3 linked regions of the Homo sapiens genome follow. The protein of the gene in region 2 purifies or fractionates together with the protein of the main gene of each other region. This does not show direct contact. Each region holds a gene or a part of one and is shown on either strand. Other genes may lie near its edges.

Region 1 (2,983 bases), on a different chromosome or scaffold from region 2:
TCTCATCCCATCGTGATAACCTGTGAGTGCAAGTAACTCCAGCCACGCCGGCTGGCAGCAGGGAAGCTGCCCCTGTGACAGGCCAGGCATGCCCGCTCCTCCTGCCTGAAAACCGGGTGCCTGTGGTGAGGAGGGGTAAGGTGGCAGGTTCAATTCAGCTCGTGCTGCACTTAAAACTTTCTACCATAAGAAAAACACATACTGTTGACCCTTAAACAACACAGGGTTTGAACCTGTGGGTCCACTTATATACATGGAGCTTTTCCAACCAAACATGGTTTATTTGCTGAATGTGAAACCCACGTATACGGAGGGCTGACTTTTAGTGTACGCAGGTTCCGTAGGGCCAAGTGCCAGACTTGAGTATGCAGATTTTCGCATACGTGGGGTATCCTGGAACCAATGTCCTGTGTATATTGAAGGATGATTCAAATACTTCCCAAGAGGTTGTGTCAAAATTCAGTAAAATTTGAAGAACTGCAAAATATTTCTCCATTACAAATTCTAACATCCTACACAGAGACCACCACCCCAACTGTTTTTTAAAAAGCAAACATAAATACAACACTTGGTTTTGAACCTTTAATAAAAGTAAAAAATGAATGCAAAAAGAACACAATGTTGAAAACTTAGTATGAATGTGAACCTCACTAGATGTTCAAATCTGGTAGAGTGCAAATTTTGTTCATACTATTTTACATTTTTACAAACTCAAATCACTTTGGTTCATATATTTTCTATAAACTATTGGCAAAAAAATCCTCAAATTTACATTCTTTTGGCTACATTATTTCTAACAGATATAGATTTACTTCCGGTTTCGGAGAGAAAGACTTATTGTGTGTGCGTGATCAAGTCTGTTTTAAAGATTCACTCGCTGCTTTCATCTAATAACTTCTGGTTTTTCATAAAATGCTGACATCTTCATTGGAAATTTTTTTCATGTAACTGTTTTCATTTTCAGAAAATATATAAGGGGGTCATTCCAAAGTTCAGAATGATCCTATTTTTTTAAAAAACAAAATTCCTGTAAAACAAATTAACTCCAGGAACTTAAAATTTACTCCAAGACATTTCCCTCAAAACAAAGCAAAAAACCCCAGCAAAGATCGTTACATCACAAAACCAAACACAAAGACCAGCGCTCACAGGCAAGTTCCTCTAAGCTTCCATTCTGCTGACTGGTGGCTTCCATTTAAAAGGAGTCTTTTAATCAAGCCACTTTCACAGAATTTAAAACAAACCAAACACATGTAAATTGCAAAATACAAAAAGGTAAATTTATAAGTAAAAATGACCAAACCCACAAAACTGGAGTATTTCGAAGGTTGAGGGTTCAGTGGAGGGTGTAACACGAAAGGAACTTCACAACTGAAAGAAATCATTGCCGAGTTTCCTCCAGGCAGCACTGAAATGAATGGAGAACCTTCTCTCGAACATCTCACACGTTAAAAAAAATAAATATTTAAGAGATACAAGGCTCAGATTGGTTTTCATATACATTGCACTTGAAGTTTAAGACCCAATACTTGCAAATTAGGTCTGGTATGGTCTATGCCATTAAATGAATACATTGTGCTCACCAATATCATTGACTAGAAACACCACACGTTTAATGCAGTGCCATATGCACTCTCCTTTTTACAAGGCAATCACAGATTGCAAATTCCATAGGGCTGTGGCAAAAAACAGTCATCTCTATTCTGTAGTAACAAACAAACAATTTTGGCTCACTAAGATTGAAATACATGGCAGACAGGTATTCATTCTTAGATGACTATGGATTTCGAAATAAACTTCATAAACTGAGGTGAAAATTCCAATATATCGCAGTGTGGGAACCAAGACTTTTCATTGCCTTTTGCTCAGTAAGATTGTCTACACAAACTGCCACGGGAGGAATGACAAGCAGTTGACCCACTGGTGATACACACACGTGTGACCATGTAAACACGCCACTGCAGGACGGACGAGCGTGACCGTGAAGCGTGGCCACGCCGCGACCCCACTTAGAGTGTGACCTCTCTATAATCACTGCTGCTTTTCTTGTTTTGTTTTTTTTTTTAAACACAGCCCTATTTTTAAAAATCTTTTGGATAAATATTATTCCTATTACACCATACTTCATGTTTGTTAAGCACCATCAACCTACCTCCTTTGGGCACTGACACAAAACTGCGGGTTGGTAATTGAGTCTTAGTTCAAGGCTTTGAAATATGGCAACTTGTTTTAATCACATGAATGAAATCGAATACTTGGGAAGCTGCCACCTGCCTGAACCCACGTAGCCTGGGCAGAATGCTCCAGGGCACAGACAGGCGCCAGTGCGGGCAGTCAAGGGAAGACTTCAGGGTAAGTCATCATTCTCCACCTCCCTATTCTAGACTAGGTGAAGAGTTTTTTCCAGGAGTCATTTGTACAGTCAGCCCGATCTAAATAGATTACTTAAGAAAAAAGATAATCTTTGTCATAATCCACAGTCAGATTTTCTTCCAAAATCTTCCTTGCTCTCAGAATCGGTGGTTTTGAAGACTCAATCACTATGGGGCTTTTCAGGAACACCCTATGTGTAGAAAGGAAAAAAAAAAGGAAAGAGAAAATTAGCACTAAATGTATAAATATTTTAATTACCAATTAAGTAGGTCCTAACATGGGAAAGATTGACACTTTCTTTGACTGAAGCAACAAGATTGAGAGGTGGGACATGTGCAGAGAACTGGAGACCGAGGCCAGCTCTCCCAGCTCCCCTGCACCGTCTTCATGGCTCTGGCCCCGTGAGCCACAGCTCTCACCTGCAAAATTAGGATAATTCTCTGCCTCAGGTGAAATTACGCTGCTGAGGCCCTTATATAAAGCCTGTTATATAAGTGTAAGATATTGGTGAAAGTTTAACTAAATTAATATCTATATAAAGGAAACACCCAATTTTATCAAAGCATGGTGATGCTTAGGGTATGATAGGTTCCTGAAAGTTCTAACTGCA
Region 2 (7,125 bases):
AGAAACATCTTCCAAGTTCCCTTTTTCCTGTATAATGCTGAATCTGTTTCTTAAAATAGTCAACTCTTTTTATTGTTCTTCACATTACAAAAGTAACACTCAGAAAACCAAGACATGTTTTTAGAAAATGGTAATTCTCCTTCCCCCACTCCATAGACACCATCTTTCTTTGTACTCTGACAGAAATGCATATTTTAAGTAGGATTACAATAAACACATTATTATCCAAGGTTTCAACAATGGGAATGACATCTGAATACTCACCTACTTTCACTCCTACAACTGCAAATCTCCAAAGTTCTGAAACTCGACTTGCCTTAAACTAGAATCAGCTTTTCCTTGTGATTTGCTATTTCAGTTGAAGGTACCATTATTGTTCTTTTAGAGATACTCCCAACCCAGCCCCACATGCTCAAACTTTGCCAATTAGTTGCCAAATTCTTCTAACACCTCTATCTCCCTTTTCTGTGACACCAATCAATCAGTCTGTCTCAAAAAACCCTCATCTTGTCCAAATCCATTTACAAGCCATCACCAAATTGCCTTTCTTCATTCCCTGCTCAAAATACTTCAGCGGCTCTGAAATTACTATCAACTAAAATCTACATTCTTGCTCCTGGCATTCAAGAACCCAATTTGCTTTACAGTAATATTCCTCCTAACACACACACATCAGTGCTCCAGACTTGGATTCCCCAAACACATTCCTTTCTCCACTATAGCTACAGCAGTGTTTACATTCTTTTTGCTTGGAATGATGTCCCCAACCTCCCAATCCCTGACTATTCAAATCCTACCTATCCTAGAAACCTACTTTCTTTGATAGAAACTGTTCTTTCAGCATACCTGCAGAACTTAGTGAAACATTTAACACTCATATATCACCTGATATTGTAGTCTGCAGTTATCTAAGTATAATCTACCCTATTACACATGTATCTATAACAGAAAGCAAAGATCCTACCCTGTCCATCTATGGATTCTACAATATTTTGTACAAAATAAGTACAATTAGTATTCATTAGGAAATGTCTGTCACATCTGGATGTTTTTAAAGGCAACCACAAAATATAGCCTGCTTGAAAAATAAAATCTATGTTTCAGACAATGAGAAACCATACCCTGGAGTACAGAAAAAGTGACAAACTCCAAATTAAAAATCCATCTTGGCTGGGTGTGGTGGCTCACAATGGTAATCCCAGCACTTTGGGAGGCTGAGGCGGGTGGATCACTTGAGGCCAGGAGTTCAAGACCATGTCAACATGGTGAAACCCTGTCTCTACCAAAAATATAAAAATATGCCAGGGTGGTAGCACGTGCCTGTACTCCCAGCTACTCAGGGGGTTGAGGTGGGAGAATCGCTTGAACCCGGGAGGCATTGCAGTTAGCTGAGATCGCACCACTGCATGCCAGCCTGGGTGACAGTGAGACCCTGTCTCAAAATACATAAATAAATAAATATTAAATAAAATAAAAATCCATCTATCCACCTTATTTCAGCAGGTAATCAAGACATTGCATATTATTACAGTAGACGCATTTCACAATCCACTGCACATATAAGCAAGGGCTAGTTCATTTAAGTGATGACTCTGTCCAGGGATTTAAAATGTATTCTGTGCCAAAATGTCAAGTCATCTGTGAAAAGGAAAACAAAAGGACACAATAAAGTAGAAGACATATAAACCTCTAAATACAAACCACCTGATTCCCCAAGAAAATGGGCCACTAATAATCCCCCAAAGAGTTGTGAGCTCAGAACAGGCTCTTTTAAATATATATATTTTTAATATATATATTTTTAAATATATATATATTTAAATAATATATATATATTTTTAATAGATATATTTTTAAATATATATATATTTAAATATATATATATATTTTTAATATATATATTTTTAAATATATATATATTTAAATAATATATATATATTATATATATATATATTTTTTTTTATATTTTTTTTAATGGAGTTTCGCTCCTGTTGCCCAGGCTGGAGTGCAATGGCGTGATCTTGGCTCACTGCAACCTCTGCCTCCCAGGTTCAAGCGATTCTTCTGCTTCAGCCTCCCAAGAAGCTGGGATTACAGGTATGTACCACCACTCCCAGCTAATTTTGCATTTTCAGTAGAGACAGGGTTTTTCCACGTTGGTCAGGCTGGTCTCAAACTCCTGACCTCAGGTGATCCACCCGCTTCGGCCTCCCAAACTACTGCGATTATAGGCGTGAGCCACTGCGCTCGGCCCTGAAAAGATTTTTTTATTAGAAACTTCTTCCATGGAAGGTAACAAGAAAATGGAATTAATTCAGCCTACCAGATGCCATATGTAATCTTACATTCTCTACATGGAAAACCACCTTATTTTCCTGAGACAAAACTTCAGAAACTTTAAAACAAATCTTCTAAGTTGGGTCAAAACCAAAACAAAATAACTCTAGTTCTACTTTATGCCACTTAGAGGGGAGAAAGTCAAGCAGGAACTGTAAATTATTTTTGTCAACTTGCTATTCACAAAGTAGTAAATTAATCTTCAGTAACTATTCATGAGCTTTGCCATAATTTTATAACTAATTTTTAAAATTCTAATAACTTTTTTCCTGAAGCTTGTTTTTACTACACACAAATGAAGAAATTATTTGGGTTTTAGAAACATTTCTAGTGAAAAAGTGCCATTTTGCTTTATGCAAATGTATCAAAGAAAAAAAGGGGAAGGCATCAGATAGACAAATAATGTAGTAAGACTACAACCTCAAAATTTGGATGTATCCCAGCAAGTAACAATCTGACAATACTCTATCCTGATTAAAATCACACCCCCCAAGATGTAATAGTGAGTTAACATTTCAAGAATAGTATATGTTTGTTTTAATTCCTACCCAAAGTTTGTAGGTATATGGGGTTCATAGATTTTCCTTTTATAGTCACGTTCCTACCTATGGAATTTGGGAAGAATCTGCTCTCATTTTAAAAACCAATATCCTAAGTAACAAGTCTCCAAAGTAATCATCTTTCTCATGGCCTTTGCAGAATAATATCAAAGTTTCACTGCATTTTTACATTAGACATGAAAGCCTTTCTTGGTATTTAAACTGTAGGTCTAAGAAAATATAAAAGTCCAGAGACAGTTTCTCATTAGGATTTGGAAGTGACTTGCACAAGTAATCAAGACTGTATATAAATGCTGCTTTATAAAAAATTTTGAGAACAGAATTTACTGAAATCACAACTCAGAGATCTCAGTCCAATTCTCCAGTGATTAAGAGAGTTCACTAGAGTTTTCAAGGTAGCCAAAAAGAGGCAGGTATCCAAATCAATTCAGGAACTTTGAAACTATATATGAACTCAACTCATGAAAGAGTTCAGGCCTTTTCAATTTGGATTACCAAAAACAGGCAAATAAAAACAAAAGAAAAAATAAAAACTTACTATACATGTTACATAACAAAGTGTTTCACTCTTTTATGTGTAAAGTCTATTCATACCCTTACCCTCTTTTGGAAACTTATGACTAAAAATCAGGGTACAAAACATAATATTTACAATTCTCCAAGTACCCGAAATACCTCTAAAACAAAAAGCAACCTGTGGAAAAACATTTCAATACCTGACAGAATAAATATGGAAAAGCACAGAAATAAATGTTACTACTACCTTACTCCCAAGGGAGCCTTCCGCAATGAAGTTTACAACAAAGTGTCTTGAAATGTTGTTAATCTGTTGGTATACTTGATAAATTATAAAGAAAACATTTCTATTGGATTCTCATTTTAGGTTGAAAAAAAACCTGGTATTCTAAGTATTAACACAAAATTAAACTTTTGCTTTTAAACTAAACTTATAATAAGTATGCTTTTATCAAAAATATATGAACATGGATTTTAAAAAGCCAAACCCTACAGAGAGGTGTTAAATGAAGAGTTAAAGCAAGTTTTTCTAGTTTGTCTTTCCCATCTGTGATATCATAAAAAAAATATTAATATTTGGTCTTTGTCCCATTTTCTGACATAGCTTCTAAAATCCTTGGAATCTCTGGAGTGATGACTGTTTTGTACAATAATCAGATGACTGGTGCCTGGGGGCCCCTAGATAGCTTCAGGATGGGGGCTAGGTAGCCAGGGGAATCAGCCCAGTGATTAAGGGTTATAACTTTGATTCCTACCCCCAGCCGCCACTTCTGGGAAGAAAGAAGCTGAAACTTGAGTCCATAAACCAATGACTAGTGATCTAATCAATCTTGCCTATTTAATGAACTTCCATAGAAGCCCAAAAGGACTGAGTTCTGTGAGCTCTCAGATAGCTGAACACTGAAGCTCCACGCCCCTTCTCCTCTTCTCTCCTTCTTTGTCTCACCTTGTACATCTCCTTCCATCGGGTTAATTCATCTGTGTCCTTTGTAATTGCCTTTATAATAAATGGGTAAATGTAAGTACAGTAGTTCCCCCTTACCCAAGATTTGACTTCCTTTTTTTTTTTTTTTTTTTTTTAGTGATGGAGTCTCGCTCTGTTGCCCAGGCTGGAGTGCAGTGGTGCGATCTTTTGATTAACATAGGTTTTTAACCTCAATATCATTCGGTTTATCAATCTTCATTATGTATTTGCTTTTATATATTTTTAAGGATTTCTTCCTTAATCTAAGATTGGAAAAATAAAATATTCCATATTTTTTTCTAAAAATTTAAAGTTCTGCATTTCATATTTACATATACATCTAGGTAAGAATACACTTAGAAATGACTATTTTTTTTTTTTAAGAGACAGGGTCTTGCTCTGTCACCCAGCCAGGCTGGAGTGCAGTTATGCAATCATAGCTCACTTGCAGCCTTGAACTCCTAGGCCCAAGCGATCTTCTCACCCCAGCCTCCTGAGTAAGATAGGACTACAGGCACCCACCACCAAGTATGGCTATTATTTTAAATATTTATTTTTGCAGAGACAGGGTCTCACTACACTGCTCAACCTAGAAGTGACTGTCTATATATTGACATAAGGTAGACATCTAGTATAATTTATTTCCAAAGGTGTAACAAAATGATCATTAATTCAACAGTCCATATTTACCTCAATGTACTTCAATTCTATCTCTGAAACACATTATTTCTATATATACATTGGTGTCTGTTTCTGGGCTATGTAATTATAAATAAGGCTAAGTACTAATCTATTTGTCTATCCCAATGGTTCTCAACCATGATTTGGCAATATCCAGGGACAGTTTTGGCTGTCACACTGGGGTGTGGGGGTGCAAGGTGCTACTGGCATCTAATGGGCAGGGGATAGTGATGCTGCTAAAAATCTTACAGTGCACAGGAGAGCTCCCATCCGCAAACAAAGAATTATCCTGTCCAAAATGTCAATACTGCCACTGTTGAGAAATCTCTGTCTATTCCTCTGCCAGTGATAATTACTTCGGCTTTGTTTTTTCACTTCAGAGGTTTTCTGAAGTCTTTTTCGGCACCAAAAATAGCTATCTCATTTCTTTCAAGAACTTTATTGCATGGCTAGACCTAATACAATGAACAGATTTGTATCAATACATATTTAGATTAAGTTTGTTGCTTTGTTATTTCCAGTAATGCTTGCCCATAGTCCTTAAGCAAACTATCTCTCTAGGCCAATTCCCTAGAATTGAAATTGTGAGTCAAAAGTTGTACGAGCCAGGCATCCCAGCTACTTGGGAGGCTGAGGCAGGAGAATCGCTTGAACCTGGGAGGTGGAGGTTGCAGTGTGCTGAGATCACGCCACTGCACTCCAGCCTTGGTGACAGAGTGAGACTGTCTCAAAAACAAAACAAAACACTGAGAAGTCAGTTGTAAATGACAGTTGATACTGCCAAATGGTTTTACACTGAAATTAAGAGTCTTCCGGGCCAGGCACGGTGGCTCACGCCTGTAATCCCAGCACTCTGGGAGGACGATGTGGGCAGATCACCTGAGGTCGGGAGTTGGAGAACAGCCTGACCAACATGGAGAAAACCTGTCTCTACTAAAAATAGAAAAAAATTTGCCGGGGGTGGTGGCGCTTGCCTGTAATCATCCTAGCTACTCGGGAGGCTGAGGCCGGAGAATCGCCCGAACCTGGGAGGTGGAAGTTGTGGTGAGCCGAGATCACGCCATTGCACTCCGGCCTGGGCAACAAGAGCAAACTCCGTCTCAAAAAAAAAAAAAAGTCTTCCAAAATTGTATAAATTTACCTATTTCAAAAAGGTAAATACCTTTGCAAAACTAATAAAACTTTGAACTCTTCACCAATCTGATAAATTTTTTTTGACTTTTTTTTTTTTTTTGAGACAGTCTCGCTCTATCGCCCAGGCTGGAGTGCAGTGGCGCGATCTTGGCTCACTGCAACCTCCACCTCCCCGATTCGAGAGATTCTCGTGCCTCAGCCTCCACAGTAGCTGGGACTATGGGCAGGAGTCACTGCACCCGGCTAATTTTTTGGTAGACACGGGTTGTGCCATTTGGCCAAGCTGGTGTCAAACTCCTGGCCTCAAGCAATCTGCCTGCCTCAGCCTCCCAAAGTGCTGGGATTATAGGCGTGAGCCACCGTAAGCGGTCTTGACAGTATTTAATTATAAACAAGGCTAGGTACTTTTTTTTTTCCCCCATAAAATCAAGCTACTGCAGGAAGGGCTAAATACTTTTTCTCTTGCTTATTGAACATCTGCATTTTGTTTATTGTGAATTGCTTGTCTTAGGCATTTTCCTAAGGGAGTATAAGTTTTTTCTTGTTTTGTTTTGTTTTTTTTTTTAGACAGAGTCTCACTCTATCCCCAGGCTGGAGTGCAGTGGAGCGATCTCGGCTCACTGCAACCTGCAACTCCCTGGTTCAAGCGATTCTCCTGCCTCAGCTTCCCTGGCAGGGTAAAACTCTTACTGGAACGTGAATCACTTATGATAGAAGTATTTTATCTCAGTTTGTCATTTAAGGATTCTTTTTTAAGCTTTGCCATAAAAAAGCTTTTTATTTTTATGTACTGAAATTTTTCAGATTTTTCCTTGGAACTTCTGGGTCTTCTGTTATGTTTAAAGCCTTTTCCCACCTCAATGAATTATCACCATATTAGTAATACTATTAAAACAAACTCCTAGGCTTGCATTTTCTGCCTTGGATTTAAAT
Region 3 (7,961 bases), on a different chromosome or scaffold from region 2:
GTTTCTCCTTGGTGACTGGGCTCAGTGAGGGCAGGGCTTGGCCTTCTTTGTCCCGGAACTCCTGGTACCCAGCCCAGAGCCTAGCCCACAGCAGGCACCCAGTCCTGTTCGCTGAGGGCCCTTTAAACCAATGTTTAATGTGCAGCTACTGCCTGGGTCATATTCGCTTCTGTCTGGGATATAGGACTCTGACAGTGATGGGTGCTGCTCTGAGACTGCTCCTCCCAAGGCTACTTCTTCACAACATACTCCTGGAGGCTCTACCTTCTTTCTCTCCATGATTTCACAATTTTCCCTGCCTGTTATGGACACCTTGACCCTTGGGGATTCTGTCCTCACATTCCCTCTCTCCCAACTGGTTTTGGGGTCCAACACTGGTGGGAAATCAAAACTGGGTCCCCACACTAACTCTTCTCTCTCCTTTTCACATGACCAGGGAAACGACTCAGGGTAGAAGGGGAGTCATTTGCCCTGTCCTTTCCCTAGGTCAATGCTGCTTGTCTTTAAAGGTACCTGTGTTAGGAGAGAGCCCTGGATGAGGACTAGGCATACCTGATTCTGCCCCTAAATGGCAGAGTGATCTTCAGAAGTCATTTCTTTGACTCTCAGTTTCTTTTCCTGTACAATGAGGATAATGAAACTGGCTCTGCCTGCCACCTCAGTTGCTGTGAGCATCAAAGGGCGTCAAGGTTTTGCAAGCTTTACCGCATCTGGGTCATTGGTGGTGGCAGGCTCTTAATGGTCAGGTCCTGTTTGTAAATTCATACAGTCCTCCACACCCTGCTGCCCTGCAGGAGATGCTTGGGAGAGGTATTCAGAGGCTAAGGCTTTCTCCTATCCATACCCTCTGTTCCAGCCACACCAAACCTTCCACTATTTCCTGAACTGCCTCGTAGCCTCCTGCCTCCGTACCTCTCTCTGCTTACCTGGTTTCTTTTGCTTAGAATGCCTTCTCCTGGCTGAAATTCTACCTCTACGTCAAGGCTCAGGCCTACCTCTAGCACAAAGCCTCCCTGCATTGTCCCAGATGTGCTCAATCTTTCTCCCTAAACCTTGTAGCATTGCTTGTAGTATAATCACAATCTAGTTATTATTCTTTCACCTACGCTCCCGAATTCCTTGGTGACAGGGCTCTGACCTACTCATCTTTGCAGCAATCCTCCCTTACCCCTGACAGTGGTGGAAGTTCAGGAAATACTGTTGCCTGGAAGGTGTTTTCTGCAGAGATTAGTGATCCATGTACAGAAGGTGCCAGGGAGAATTACTCAGTTTGGAGAGCAGCTCAGATCAAGCTGCCTAGCCTTATGCCAGCTGTCCTTCGCCTCCTCTGTCCTGGGTTATCTCAGAACTGCTCTCTACACTAAGTGTCTACCTGACAGGCATAGTAGAGAGGCTTAATATCACCTGAACTCAGCTTAGAAAAAGCCAAATAAAAAGGAAAATGGAGTCATGTTTGAGTCTCTCAGCCTAAGCCCCGCCTAACTACTTTCCTTTGCATCTGATCGCATACAGAGCCAGTAGTGAGTTCTCTGCTCCTGGGGAAGGAAGATGGCAGGCCTCAGCTACTGCTCAAGTTGGGTAGTGTTTTGAGAACCTCAGCTTCAGCAGTTTCAAAAGTGGCAGCTGCTTTGTGGGCCTGCCCTCTTTGGGCAAGACTTCCACTTAGGTCCATCCTCAGGTCTGGGTGGGGGAGGAGCATCGGGAAGGTGCAGATTAAGAGGTTGTGGAGGAAGGGAGAGGGTGCCAGGAAGTGAAAAGTCATTGGTACAACGGGCTAGAAAGGGCTTAATATAGGGAAGAAGTGGGGCAGGGAAGGGGGAGGGAGAAGCAGAAGGTGAAATGTGCTGGAGTCCTCCTAGTTATCCAATAGGACAGATGTTGAGGAAGGCCAGGGATGGAGTCTGGCCCAGTCTCACAAGAGGGGCCAACAGTGGCCCAGCAGACAGGCCCAGTTTGGTGGGGGGATTGTCTTGGGGGTATGGGGAGAAGGGCTACTTTGAGATAGGGTCAAAGGCTGGGTGGGAAAAGGGTTACAGGTTAGGAACAAGGTCTAGGTTTTGACTAGGCCATGTCCAAGGTTGGATGGTAGTTAAGAGAGGAAACCAGGAAAATAAGACGTCCATGCCTAGTTGGAAAGTAGAGGCACCAAGATGCCAGCTTCTGAGGAGCCAGCTGACTGGGATGGTTCCAGAAAGTGATGTGAAAAACTGGGCTCTAAGAGATCATTGTTTTTGAGGCAGGGGCAAGGGCCAGGTGTGGGGGATCTAGGTGAGCACATAAGGTGCCATAGATTCCAGTGAGACAGGAGTCAGAGTCTAGGGATGGGTCTGGATGGTAGAAAGGGCCCTGCGGTGGGCTGAGGCAGGGTTCCTAACAGGGAATGACACGAAATTGTACCATTCAGTAAGTTGTGAGGACCAGTATCCATCAGGTATACATGATGGGGCTGATCTGCCTGGGCCCAACAGGCTCAGAACAATCAGTGCCCGAGTCGCAGTGGGGGACGGGCTGACAGCGTTCCCAGCCGCGGCATGATGCACAGGGAGGGAAGTGTCAGGGTCCGGGTCGGGAGCAGAAGCAAGTTCCTATTGGGGAAGGTATCATACCCTGGTCGGGGGTCGGTGCCCAGATCCCGGGGTAGGAAATGCCAGCCCCGGAATGTGGGCCCGAGACAGAGGGAACGGTGGTGATCAGGGCTGGGAAGAGTCAGTGTCCGGGGAGAGGTGTCTGTCCCGCCTAGGAAGGGTCCATGTCGGCCGTGTTCGGTATGGGGGTGGAAAGTGCCCGGTTTTCCCGCTGACCCTACCTTGCCGCGGGCGCAGCGTACGGAGCGCAGGGCGCCGAAGAAGATGGGCAGCAGCGCCATGAGCAGGAGGCTGCCGTAGGCCAGCGCGATGCCCTCGGGCGTGGAAGGCGGCCGCGTAGTGCTGTTGGTGGGGCCGCCTGCCTCGGCACTGCCGTTATGCGGATCGCTGAGGGCCGAGTCCATGGCGAGGGTGCGTTCGGGATCCGACTCCAGCTCCGGTTGCTGCAGCAGGGACGCAGGCGGAGACACCGGCTCTGCAGGGAAAGCCACGTTCCCCTAAGGCAACAGGAAGTGACGTGCTCCCTCCCAAGCCCGCGCCGCGCACGCGCGCACACACGCTTGCACGCACGCGCGCGCGCGTGCACGTCTCCCCGCCCGCTCGCCCTCTAGCGGTGGCCGAGGGCCGGGCGGCGGGTTGCTAAGCAACTTGTTAGCGGTCCGGACAGGGGCTCTGGGCCACTGCGGTGGGCATGCGACCCGAATGCCCATTTCCCAGTCCCAGCCGGTCTCCTCAATCCCCTGCTGTCCACTCTCCGCAAATCCTCATATTCCGAATAACTAAGAATGTGTTTATTCATACATGCATTTATTGGGTATCCAATTGTTTATTCACTCCTTAAATATTTATTGAATGTCCCTCAATATGCCAACAACTGACCTAGGCTCTGGGGACACTGAGGTGAACAATACAGGCAAAAGTTCCTCCTTGCCTTCGTGAAGTTTGCATTTTAGTGCAGTGTGTGTGGGGGGACGTTGGGAAGACAATAAAGAAACTGAACAAAATAAAAGTCTGTAAAATGGGCTGGGCGCAGTGGCTCACGCCTGTAATCCCAGCACTCTAGGAGGCCGAGGCGGGTGGATCACCTGACGTCACGAGTTCGAGACCAGCCTGACCAATATGGTGAAACCCCGTCTGCACTAAAAATACAAACAATTAGCCGGGCGTGGTGGCACGCACCTGTAATCCCAGCTACTCGGGAGGCTGAGGCAGGAGAATCGCCTGAACCCGGGAGGCGGAGGTTGCAGTGAGCCAAGACTGAGCCATTGCACTCCAGCCTGGGCAACAAGAGCGAAACTCCGTCTGAAAAAAAAAAAAAAAAAAAAAAAAAAAAAGGCCAGGCGCGGTGGCTCACGCCTGTAATCCCAGCACTTTGGGAGGCCGAGGTGGGCAGATTGCGAGGTCAGGAGATCGAGACCATCCTGGCTAACACGGTGAAACCCCGTCTGTACTAAAAATATAAAAAATTAGCCGGGCGTGGTGGCGGGCGCCTACAATCCCAGCTACTTGGGAGGCTGAGGCAGGAGACTGGCTTGAACCTGGGAGGCGGAGGTTGCAGTGAGCCCACTGCACTCCAGCCTGGGCGACAGAGTGAGACTCTGTCTCAAAAAAAAAAAAAAAAAAAACAAGAAAAATTTGTAATTTGTAAAACGTTAATGTATAGTTATGTGTTACATAGCATGTTAATGCAGATAAATAGAGAAAAATAAAGCAAAAGAAAGTAAGGTGTGTGTGGAGTTTGCAAATGTATTGAGAGCCTACTATGTGCCAGGCAATTATAATACCTTACGAGTTCATGCCCCTGTACAATTTATAAAGCTTTGTGGCTCTTTTCAGAATTTGAAGAATCTGTTTATTTATGTGATTCTTATTTTTGATATTGTTAAAAAAGTTAAAAATATATATTTTCTTAGACATGGGGTTTTGCCATGTTGGCCAGGCTGGTCTCAAACTCCTAGGTTCAAGTGATCCTCCTGCCTCAGCCTCCTAAAGTGTTGGGATTACAGGTATGAGCCACTGCTTGCAGCCTACTGTGGCTATATTAGATACTGGAACATCTAAGCATCACTGTGTGACTGTGCAAACAAAAAACTTCAAGGAGGGCCTATTATTATTATTATTATTATTATTATTTTGAGACAGGGTCTCACTCTGTCACCCAGGCTGGAGTGCAGTGGCATGATCACAGCTCACTGCAGCCTCTACCTTCTGGGCTTGGGTGATTCTCCCACCTCAGCCTCCCCAGTAGCTGGGACCACAGGTGTGTGCCACCACGCCCGGCTAACTTTTTGTGTTTTTAGTAGAGATGGGGTTTCGGCATGTTGCCCAGGCTGGTCTCAAACTCCTGGGCTCAAGCAATCTGCCCACTTCGGCCTCCCAAAGTTCTGCAATTATAGGCATGAGCTGCCACCTCCCGCAAGAGTGCCTATTTTATTTTATTTTATTTATTTTTTATTTTTTTTTTTGAGATGGAGTCTTGCTATGTCACCCAGGCTGGAGTGCAGTGGCACGATTTCGGCTCACTGCAACCTCCAGCTTCCGGGTTCACGCCATTCTCCTGCCTCAGCCTCCCGAGTAGCTAGGACTACACGCACCCGCCACCACGCTCGGCTAATTTTTGGTATTTTTAGTAGAGTCAGGGTTTCACCGTGTTAGCCAGGATGGTCTCGATCTCCTGACCTCGTGATCCGCCCGCCTCGGCCTCCCAAAGTGCTGGGATTACAGGCATGAGCCACCGCGCCCGGCCAAGAGTGCCTATTTTAAAAAAGATTTCTATGTGTTGAGGCAGTTGTTTACTGCAGAATTAAGCCCACTTTAGGCTTACTACCAGCTTCTATCTAAAAATATTGACTGATAACCGAAAGTGTTCTAAAGGTGGTTATTCTGATCTATAGTTTTTTTGTTTGTTGTGAGACTGAGTTTTGCTCTTTTTGCTCAGGCTGGAGTGCAATGGCGCAATCTCGGCTCACCACAACCTCTGCCTCCCTGGTTCAAGCGATTCTCCTGCCTCAGCCTCCCGAGTAGCTGGGATTACAGGCATGCGTCACCACGCCCAGTTAATTTTGTATTTTCAGTAGAGATGGGGTTTCTCCATGTTGGTCAGGCTGGTCTCGAACGCCTGACCTCAGTGATCCACTCGCCTCGGCCTCCCAAAGTGCTAGGATTACAGGCGTGAACCACTGCGCCTAGCCTCTGATCTATAGTTTTTTAAAAAAGTATTTACAGAAAGTATAGAAGTTTTTGTGAATTTAATACAAGTTAGCCTCCAATTTTCTCTTCTCAAATGTTTGATTTATAGTTTTTGCTCCTTTACATATTTGCTTTTTTAATTTCAAGATTTGTAATTTTACCTTCAAAACAGTTCATTTTTAAAATTGTAAAGCATGTTTAACATACGCAGAAATAGGCTGGGTATGGTGGTTCACGCCTGTAATCCCAGCATGCTGGGAGGCCGAGGTGGGTGGATCGTGTGAGCCCAGGAGTTAGAGACCAGCCCGGGCAACATAGCAAGACCACATCTAAAAAATAAATAAATAAATAAAAAAAAGTCAGTATTTTGAAATTATTTGAGCTCAATGCAGTTCTACTCTTTGGAAGCAGATTAGCTAACTGAATCTGGTGCTCTTGTTGAATAGAAATAGGTGATGGGAAATGTCTATCATTTGACTTTATAAGGATAAGCAAGATTTACCATGATGCTTTGATTTGGGGGTGGATTCCAGTCCATCATTGCCCTGGCACATGTCAATTAGTACACACAAAATTCAATGTCAAATCCAGAGCCTCAGAGGAAAAAATTTATTCCCCAAGAGAACAATGATAACATAACAAAGTAAAATGTTATCTAGATTATATTGGTATTAAAATTATCTCTTATATAAAGTATATTGACTGTAACTATACATAGAAGATTCATAGTAACACCTGGAAGTTCCTTCTCATGTTATATATAAATTGAATTATGAAAGCTTTTTATATTACCTGTTTATGGCCTTATAGATTTAATGTACCAAATGAAAACTTCCCACTCTACCTCTAGATAAGATAAAATCTATATTTATTTTCAAGGTAGAGTTTTAAGTGGCCATATTTCTTAAGCCGTATTCAAAGGAAAATTTTATTTCAAGGCACATTTTCACTCTGTCACCCAGGCTGGAACACAATGGCATGATCACAGCTCACTGCAGCCTTGACCTCCTGGGCTCAAGCGACCCTCCCACTTCAGCCTCCCGAGTAGCTGGGACTATAGGCATATACCACCATGCCCAGCTAATTTTTCCATTTTTTATAGAGATGGGGTTTCACCATGTTGCCCAGGCTGGTCTTGAATTCCTGGGCTCAAGCGATCTGCTCACCTTGGCCTCCCAAAGTGCTGGGATTACAGGCATGACTACCATGCCTGGCCACTCAAGGAAATTGTGTCTTAACTAAGTTTGAATGCTGTTCCTCTTCATTTTGTATATGAAACTTCAGCTGATTTAATATTGACATTCATCATCTAGTCAAACCCTTCACATGTTCTTCAAACCAACCAAATTTGGGGTTCTTGACATTTTCTGTGTCAATAAAATTAGATGTGGATCTTATCTTTTTTTTTGAGATGGCGTTTTGTTCTGTCACCCAGGCTGGAGTGCAGTAGTGTGATCTTGGCTCACTGCAACCTCTGTGTCCCGGGCTCAAGCAATTTTCCTGCCTCAGCCTCCTGAGTAGCTGGGACAACAGGCACCCGCCATCACGCCCGGCTAATTTTTGTGTTTTTAGTAGAGATGGGGTTTCACCATGTTGGTCAGGCTGGTCTCAAACTCCTGACCTCGTGATCTGCCCGTCTCGGCCTTCCAAAGTGCTGGGATTACAGGCGTGAGCCACCACGCCCAACCAAGATGTGGATCTTATATTTTATTTTGAGATGGAGTCTCGTTCTTTCGCCCAGGCTGGAGTGCAGTGGCATGATCTCAGCTCACTGCAAGTTCCGCCTCCCGGGTTCATGCCATTCTCCTGCCTCAGCCTCCCAAGTAGCTGGGACTACAGGCACCCGCCACCGTGCCCGGCTAATTTTTTTTTTTTTTTGTATTTTTAGTAGAGACGGGGTTTCACCGTGTTAGCCAGGATGGTCTTGATCTCCTGACCTCATGATCCACCCGCCTCGGCCTCCCAAAGTGCTGGGATTACAGGTGTGAGCCACCACGCCTGGCCTGTATCTTATTTTATCTAGATCTACTAGATTTGATGAAGACTTGTTTTTTCCTTGCCATACTGGCCTTCTAGATGACCTTTGAATTGAATTTAGAAGATGGGAAAGTGTAGACCTGTCTTGGCCTGAGTCTTTTTTTTGAGATAGTTTCACTTTTTTTTTTTTTTTTTTTTGTTTTGAGATGG

What was found.
Region 1: the proteins of RNF139 (region 2) and INSIG1 purify together in Homo sapiens (affinity purification with western blotting, with the first as the bait; 3 studies listed by BioGRID). This does not show direct contact.
Region 3: the proteins of RNF139 (region 2) and HM13 purify together in Homo sapiens (affinity purification with western blotting; 2 studies listed by BioGRID and IntAct, with this or other methods). This does not show direct contact.

What each region holds. Positions count from the first base shown.
Region 1 is NC_000007.14:155,307,821-155,310,803, reverse strand, and holds the end of INSIG1 (insulin-induced gene 1 protein), read right to left. Parts: intron 2,564-2,983; coding exon 2,534-2,563; coding exon of another isoform or gene 2,446-2,533; 3' UTR 569-2,445; downstream 1-568. UniProt on the Homo sapiens protein: Oxysterol-binding protein that mediates feedback control of cholesterol synthesis by controlling both endoplasmic reticulum to Golgi transport of SCAP and degradation of HMGCR.
Region 2 is NC_000008.11:124,477,773-124,484,897, reverse strand, and holds part of RNF139 (E3 ubiquitin-protein ligase RNF139), read right to left. Parts: intron 1,639-7,125; exon of another isoform or gene 1,491-1,638; intron 1-1,490. UniProt on the Homo sapiens protein: E3-ubiquitin ligase; acts as a negative regulator of cell proliferation through mechanisms involving G2/M arrest and cell death.
Region 3 is NC_000020.11:31,509,580-31,517,540, reverse strand, and holds the start of HM13 (signal peptide peptidase), read right to left. Parts: upstream 3,100-7,961; 5' UTR 2,990-3,099; coding exon 2,807-2,989; intron 1-2,806. UniProt on the Homo sapiens protein: Catalyzes intramembrane proteolysis of signal peptides that have been removed from precursors of secretory and membrane proteins, resulting in the release of the fragment from the ER membrane into the cytoplasm.